Homo sapiens: one gene and its partner. The protein of the gene in region 2 interacts with the protein of the main gene of each other region in a biochemical or structural test. Each region holds a gene or a part of one and is shown on either strand. Other genes may lie near its edges.

Evidence for each region. Proteins that work in one complex are often made in the same cells at the same time.
Region 1: of the proteins of CUL2 (region 2) and DCUN1D5, one has a biochemical effect on the other in vitro, tested with the Homo sapiens proteins (2 studies listed by BioGRID, with this or other methods).

What each region holds. Positions count from the first base shown.
Region 1 is NC_000011.10:103,050,465-103,054,219, reverse strand, and holds the end of DCUN1D5 (DCN1-like protein 5), read left to right. Parts: 3' UTR 1-3,534; downstream 3,535-3,755. UniProt on the Homo sapiens protein: Contributes to the neddylation of all cullins by transferring NEDD8 from N-terminally acetylated NEDD8-conjugating E2s enzyme to different cullin C-terminal domain-RBX complexes which is necessary for the activation of cullin-RING E3 ubiquitin ligases (CRLs).
Region 2 is NC_000010.11:35,013,638-35,017,392, reverse strand, and holds part of CUL2 (cullin-2), read left to right. Parts: intron 1-998; coding exon 999-1,201; intron 1,202-3,592; coding exon 3,593-3,694; intron 3,695-3,755.

The sequences.
Region 1 (3,755 bases), on a different chromosome or scaffold from region 2:
TATTGGCAGCCATAGAGAGTGGGAGGTCAAGCCTTTTTTAGTCATTGGAGTAAACAGGAGACATAGATGTGGAAATTGGGAGGTTCTCTCTATCTGGCTTACGTCAGTTTGAGAAGTTTGACATGAAATGGAACCTTCTGGAATGAGGTTCTTTTTCCTGCTTTTCACCTGGAAAGTTTTCCCATACATGGTCCTCTTGCACCCCTAGTCCTTTTAGGGTACCTATTTCTGTGTGCTAGTTCTTTCATTTCCTTGTCTGTAACATGAGGATAATAATAGTCCTTATCTAATAGCATTATTTTGAGGATGAAATGAAATACAGGCAGTAAATATTAGTTACTCTTTGCTATCTGGAAAAACATCAATTGAACCTCATAGGATGGACTTGTGTTCAATAAGTGTTATATATAGTAGAGTCAAATGGAAAAATTGAACCACTCAGATACATTTTTTTCATTGATACATAATAGATGTATTTATTTGGGGGGTACATGTGATAATATGATATATTCATATAATTAAAATTCATTGATACATGATGTATTTATTTGGGGGTACATGTGATAGTATGATATATTCATATAATTAAAATTCATTGATACATAATGTATTTATTTGGGGGGTACATGTGATAGTATGATATATTCATATAATTAAATGAAGATAATTGGGATATCCATCACCTTAAATATTTATGTTTTCTTTACACTAGGAACATTCGAATTCTCTTTAGCTATTTTGAAATGTACAATAGTTTAGTGTTAATAGATCAGTCATCCTACTGATATATCGAACACCAGGTCTTATTTCTTCTGTCTACATAGACATATTTAGAAATGCAAATCTCTTAGGAAATTAATCTGTAATGTCAATGATGCACACTGATTTGTATTACTTGCTTTCTTTGTAGGCAGTATAGTGAAATGGTTCATTAAATGGATGCTAAATATGACTAAATGATCAATTTACAGTGTAGTTGGCACCAAGTAATAAATGCTCAGTAACATAGCTACTATGGCTGTCTTTAAAAGTGGATTGGTTTGACTTCATAGGAAGGACTCTATTTTTAAAAAAGAGAAATATTAAAAAATAAAAAGCCAAAATTCTATGATGTCTTATTACATTGAGTCTCTTAAATCAGTTTTTTTTTAATTAAGTAGCAGGACCCTATTGCAAAATAAGTTTTACCTAGAAGCACAGTATTTAAAACAGAAAGCTAAAATACTCTGGTTAAGTGGGAAGCTCCCTGTCTTCCTCGCTGCTAGTATTATTTCTGAAAAACCTCAAAGGAACTCCTTGCTCTCTGAATAGCAGGTTTTAAAAACCACTACTTGCACATTTGCACCTTGACATCAAACATGTGAACAAAGTAATAGAGTGAGAAAACTGAATTTCTATTTAGGAATTTCTATTTTATTCTCTCTATAAAAAGCCAAGAAGTGGTTGGTGTTTGGAATAACATGAAAAATATTCCAAGTATCTTTGGAAATACTTACACTAGAACTATAAGGTTTATGATAATTCTATCTTAGATTCATTATCTAGAGCTGGTCTAAAAAAGGATGATATGTAAGAACTACCAAGAGAGACTTGGAGTAGATACAAGAATGAAGGAATGAATCAATATCCAATAAATATCCATAGGCCCAGGCTTTGCTATGCCCTCTTATTACACAGGATAAAACAGTGTAGTTGTTAGTTTCTACCTTTGAAGATTATGATCCTTAAAAAGGAAACAGCTCTGTGAACAGAGACCATGTTATTCATAGGTGTTCCTCACTTGTTTCCACCACATAATAGGTATTTAATGAATGAAAAAATTCACGTCTCTCTTTGATCCTAGACTGCAAGTTACTTAAAAGAAATGGACCGTATTTTACTTATCTCTCATGGCCTGCAAATTGAGTTTGCTTACTGAATTAATGAATGAATGACCAATTGTACACATATGTCTGTAAAACGTTTACATATCCACATTCCCATTAGACTGAGATTCTTGAGGGCAGAAACCATGTCTTCAGCTCTCAGCATGGTGCCTGACTCATGGTAGGTTGTCAAAAGCATTTGCAGAACTGAATAAAACTTACGTTTAAGTAGTACTGGAGCAGTCTCACATAACCGGGCACAGTGTCTTCTAAATAGACACTAAAATTATTTCATAATTAAAGACAGATCTCACTAAGCATTTTCTGAGTTAGTGCCAGTTGAATAATATGACAATAAGCTATAGGAGTTCAGAGGAGAGTGAGTTCTGTGGACTGAAATAGTCAAAGTGGATTTTCAGAGCAGATGAGACGCGATGAAGGCTGGGGCTACTTTGGTGTTTTAAGAACATTAATTAGGCAGCAGGAAAATCTGAGGACAGGGAGACTAGTAAGGAAGGCTGGAAAGAGCCCTGGGTTTGGAGTTCAGAGATCTGTGTTCAGAGTCCTTTGCTTCTTAGTGACTATGTGACCTTGAGAAGATAACTTGAGCTCCCTTTTTCCTCTTCTGTGAGGTAGAGGTAAGATTGATGTGCATATTGATATTGTACTTAAAAGTGTTTGTAAAATGCTAAGTAAAACCTAATGCTATGCTTTGAATGTAGTGGGTTCCAAATATTTGTTTAATGACAAAGAATAAATGATATTGACTAATGAAAATAATGGAGCCACTGGAATGTCACCTCCTGCATCTGCCAGTAAACCTGTTAACACAGGGGTGGCGGGGGGGGGGGGGAAGTAAATATGTGAAGCCACCAAATCTCATGATCAGGAGAAAAACTTTGGAACTCCCATGAGACTCCAAAGTTATGTCACAGGTGAATAAGTCATGAACTTTTCATGCTGATATCATTTCTAAGGTTGCTGCCTTGTCAGAAGAAGCAAACCACAAGATAAACCATGCAGAAAATCTTTTTTTAAAAAAGTTTCCTGAAGGATGGATGGTTCATTTGTTCTGCTTGTCACTTTACTTACTAATGAGTCATTTTTTTCCTTAACCAGTAATTTGTTTTAAATTTGGTCATAAGATGGTATGTTGACTAGTCCAATGTTACAAAATAATTGGAAAAAAGATGACAGACCACCAACTGAATAAGGGAAATCTGGTTCTTGAACTTCCAATGTATGAATTGGTGATGGTAAGCTTAGTCTTTATGATGTAAGATTGGATTTATTGGAACTTCTTTATGTCCAGAAGTTGCAGCACCTTTCTTTGTCTCTGGAATGCCCAAGATCTCTACTGCATCCTGTAGACATGGAGGGTTTCCCCCCTTATTCTGGGTCTGATTATTTTTAAAGAAACACCCTTTCCTTACCCATCATGGAGACACTACTAACCTTGTATATACTTTTATTAGAGTGCTGATAACACCATATTACAGTAGCATACTTACATATCTGTTTTCTTAACTGTGAGCTCCTTGAGAGCAGGGACTGTGTGTTTTTGCTTTTATTTCACCAGTACTCAGAACTATCCACAGTATAGAAAAGCACTCAATAAATGGAATAAATGAAAATGAATAGATAAATAAATGATTTCACTTGTATAAGATGTCCAGTAATCTTTTGTGTATTTTTCTAATTCACTGTATGGCACACATTCTAGTACAACCCTGTTTATAATGTTGACCTACTATTAAAGGAATTAAACAAATGTAAGCCAAGACAAGAAATGCATATTAAAACAACTATGGTATTTTTGCCTTCCAAATTGGCACAGATTTTAAAAATTGATAATGCCCATGTTTGATGACACAAGGAGACAGGAATTGT
Region 2 (3,755 bases):
AAAACATTCAGATTAAATGTTTTTCATTTTTATGAAAACATTCAGATTAAACATTTTTATGAAAACATTCAGATTCTTTTGCTATCAACTTTCAGCAAGAGAATGGGTCTGCCTGTTTGTCTCTCCTTTCATACCTGTTTGCCTCTAGGAAGTTACTGGAAAGAAAAATGTTGTTTATGAGACATAATAGCATTAATTTTGGCAGAAATTACAGCTTAGACAGGGCCTCAAAAGCATTTTCCATGTGGCTGTGGACCTCCCAGGAGGCTTGAACCTTACCTGGGAGAGCCCAGCTATCGACAGCACTTGAGGCTGTTGCTGATATCACTTTGCCCTTTGTCTGTCCATTTCTCCTTCTCCCACCTCCTTTTATTGTTTGGGTTTTTTGTTCTTTTCTTTTTCTGCCTAAGTCTTAGCATTTCTATTAATATTTAAAGACTTTTTTTTTTGTTTTTTTTTTTTTTTTGAGACAGAGTCTCGCTCTGTCACCCGTGCTGGAGTGCAGTGGTGTGATCTTGGCTTGCTGCAACCTCCGCCTCCCAGGTTCAAGTGATTTTCCTGCCTCAGCCTCCCAAGTGGCTAGGATTACAAGCATGAGCCACCATGCCTGGCTAATTTTTGTACTTTTAGTAAAGATGGGGTTTTACTATGTTGACCAGGCTGGTCTCGAGCTCCTGACCTAAAGTGATCTGTCTGCCTCGGCCTCCCACAGTGCTGGGATTACAGGCGTGAGCCGCTGCGCCTGGCCTTAAAGACTGTTTTAACCTACTGGTGAAGTTATGATAGTTTTACTGATTTATACCATATACTCAAAACTAATAGACTTCCATCCTCACCTCCCCAAGAAACAAAATGACTACCTTGTTAACAGCAGTGGCTTTACAACAATTTAATAAAATTATTGGTTCACTCTTTCCGAAGAAAATGTCTGAAATAAAGTAAATTTGAAATGTTTCTTTGAATGGTCAATTCACTGTCAGTTTTTGTTTTAATTGTAGGTGAAGTTAAAATGAACTATTTGGGCAAACCATATGTAGCCATGGTTACAACATACCAAATGGCAGTTCTTCTTGCCTTTAACAACAGTGAAACTGTCAGTTATAAAGAGCTTCAGGACAGCACTCAGATGAATGAAAAGGAACTGACAAAAACAATCAAATCATTACTTGATGTGAAAATGATTAACCATGATTCAGAAAAGGTATGTAGTAATATTCCAAAGAATTTAAGCATCATCAGCATTAAAGCTTTTTCATGAGATGTTTGCAGTTTTAAAATAAGGCTGTAATTGTTATTGTGCTCTGGAAAGCACTTGTATTCACTACGTTACTGTACGCTCCATAGAGCTGCGAGCGTTAAGGCATCACAGAGCATGCTGTGTGAGTTGGTGCCATGTGCCGTTTATAGTTTGATTTTATTTGTCCTATACTGTTACAGCTTATTGAATAATTGTAAAAGAATTGCCATCTGGAAGATTTTGATTAATTGAGATTTTGAAACTAGCCTTTAAAGACTTTCCAGGTTTTTGGTTTTATAAATGTGCTTAATTTCATGGTTCTATAACAGGAAATGACAGCCTGTTGATGTCTGTTTGTACACATATTTAATATGTGTAACTCCATTCCAAGTGTTCTTAATGTCAGCACTCAATTAACTGTCATCTGTTTTTAACCACCATATATTTTTAATATCTGTCACAAGAATAACAAGCCATTAGTATATTACTTTTTTTCTCTGTAACTTTTTTTCTAGTTACAAGATTTTGCTGTTTTGTTGTCATAGTATATCCTAGATGTTTAAATAGTTAAAAATGCAACAGAGGTGGGATTATATCTCCTTCAAATTATTGTGCTTATAAGAAAAAATTCCTATAAATAATGTTTTGTTTTTATTTTTGTAAAGTTAATAGCCTACAGTTTATTTCTCTCATTAATTCATTTTGCTGACATCCCTAGGATTATGATGACATTTTATAGTCTATAACTGAACAACTGTAAAAGGCATATTCTGAAATTCAAATCAATGTTTTCATAATTTTGAGAAATGATTTATCTGGCATCAGAATCTTAGCAAAATATGGATTTTTTTTTTTTTTTTTTGAGACGGAGTTCCACTCTTGTTGCCCAGGGTGGAGTGCAATGGCGTGATCTTGGCTCACTGCAACCTCCACCTCCTGGGTTCAAATGATTCTCCTGTCTCAGCCTCCTGAGTAGCTGGGACTACAGGCACGTGCCACCATGCCCAGCTAATTTTGTATTTTTAGTAGAGATAGGGTTTCACAATGTTGGCCAGGCTGGTCAGGCTGGTCTCGAACTCCTGACCTCAGGTGATCCACCTGTCTTTCCCAAAGTTCTGGGATTACAGGCGTGAGCCACTGTGCCTGGCCAAAATAGGGATTTCTTAAGGTTAATTAATTATGGTTTCTAATTTTAGGCTAGTAAATTCTTAAAGGTTTTATATTTTTTTCTAAAACATGCTATTTTTGCTGCCCAGAAATTGACAAAGTAAACATAGATTCCTTGTTTGCACTTTAAATTTTATTTTATGTTTATTTATTTTTGAGATGAGATCTTGCTGTGCCACCCAGGTTGGAGTGCAGTGGTGCCATCTCAGCTCACTGCAATCCCCACCTCCTGGGCTCAAGTGATAATCCTGCCTCAGCCTTCCAAGTAGCTGGGACCACAGGTGTAAGCCACTATGCCAGGCTAATTTTTTAATTTTTAGTAGAGACCGGGTTTTGCTTTGTTGGCCAGGCTGGTCTCAAACTCCTGAGCTCAAGTAATCTGCCCACCTCAGCCTCCCAAAGTGGTGGGATTACAGACGTGAGCCACCATGCCTGGCCTTTAAATTTAATTATGAATCTGTCCATTCCTTAGCAGAATGTCTTAGATTATTATTGAGAATTATTTCATCTTCCAAGTGCCTTTTGATTCTGCTGCCAGAGAAATTCCACTCTATGATATCAGTGGCTTTCTTAAGCCTGATACAGAAGTTGTTATTCTAAAAATTGCCTAAACAGTTTTCCCCTGAGCAAAGGCCACTTGCTTCTTGAAGAGTGAATAAAACATGGATTGAAATAAATGTTTTCACCATCACCCCAGGTCACAGCAAATTGATGCTGTGTGCTACTGGAGGCACAGCTTTCTCTTGTCATCAGGCCATTTACAGTGGGTATTTTGTTACTGCGGCATTTGTAAAAAAAAATGTGGTTGCTTTTTCAAAATGGGGTGATGGAAAAGTTACGCACTTTGGTGTTTCATAAAAATTAAAATGTCAAACTCTAGGCAATGAGCTTGACTCTTATTTTATCAAAAAGTAGTGTATATAGAATAGTAGGACCAGAAAATAGCTTATTCCCAAACATAAACTGCTTAAGATTCTGGCAGATGTAAAAGTAGAAAATAATTGGGTTTTTTCCTGTTTGTTTGAACAAAAGAATTATTTTTCTCTTAAATTTGGTAATCTATAATATAAAAGTTATGAGAGTGGAGGCTTTTTTGCTTGGTCATTAATTTAGCAGAATTGCTTGCAGCAAACTCTTATTTAAAGATTTTGGTTTTTATAAATATAAATGTTTTATTTTTAAATGTAGGAAGATATTGATGCAGAATCTTCGTTTTCATTAAATATGAACTTTAGCAGTAAAAGAACAAAATTTAAAATTACTACATCAATGCAGAAAGACACACCACAAGTAAGTGCTTTTAATGTCAAGTTTTTTTTGAGGGGGAAACATTTAAGCATTGGACTTTACA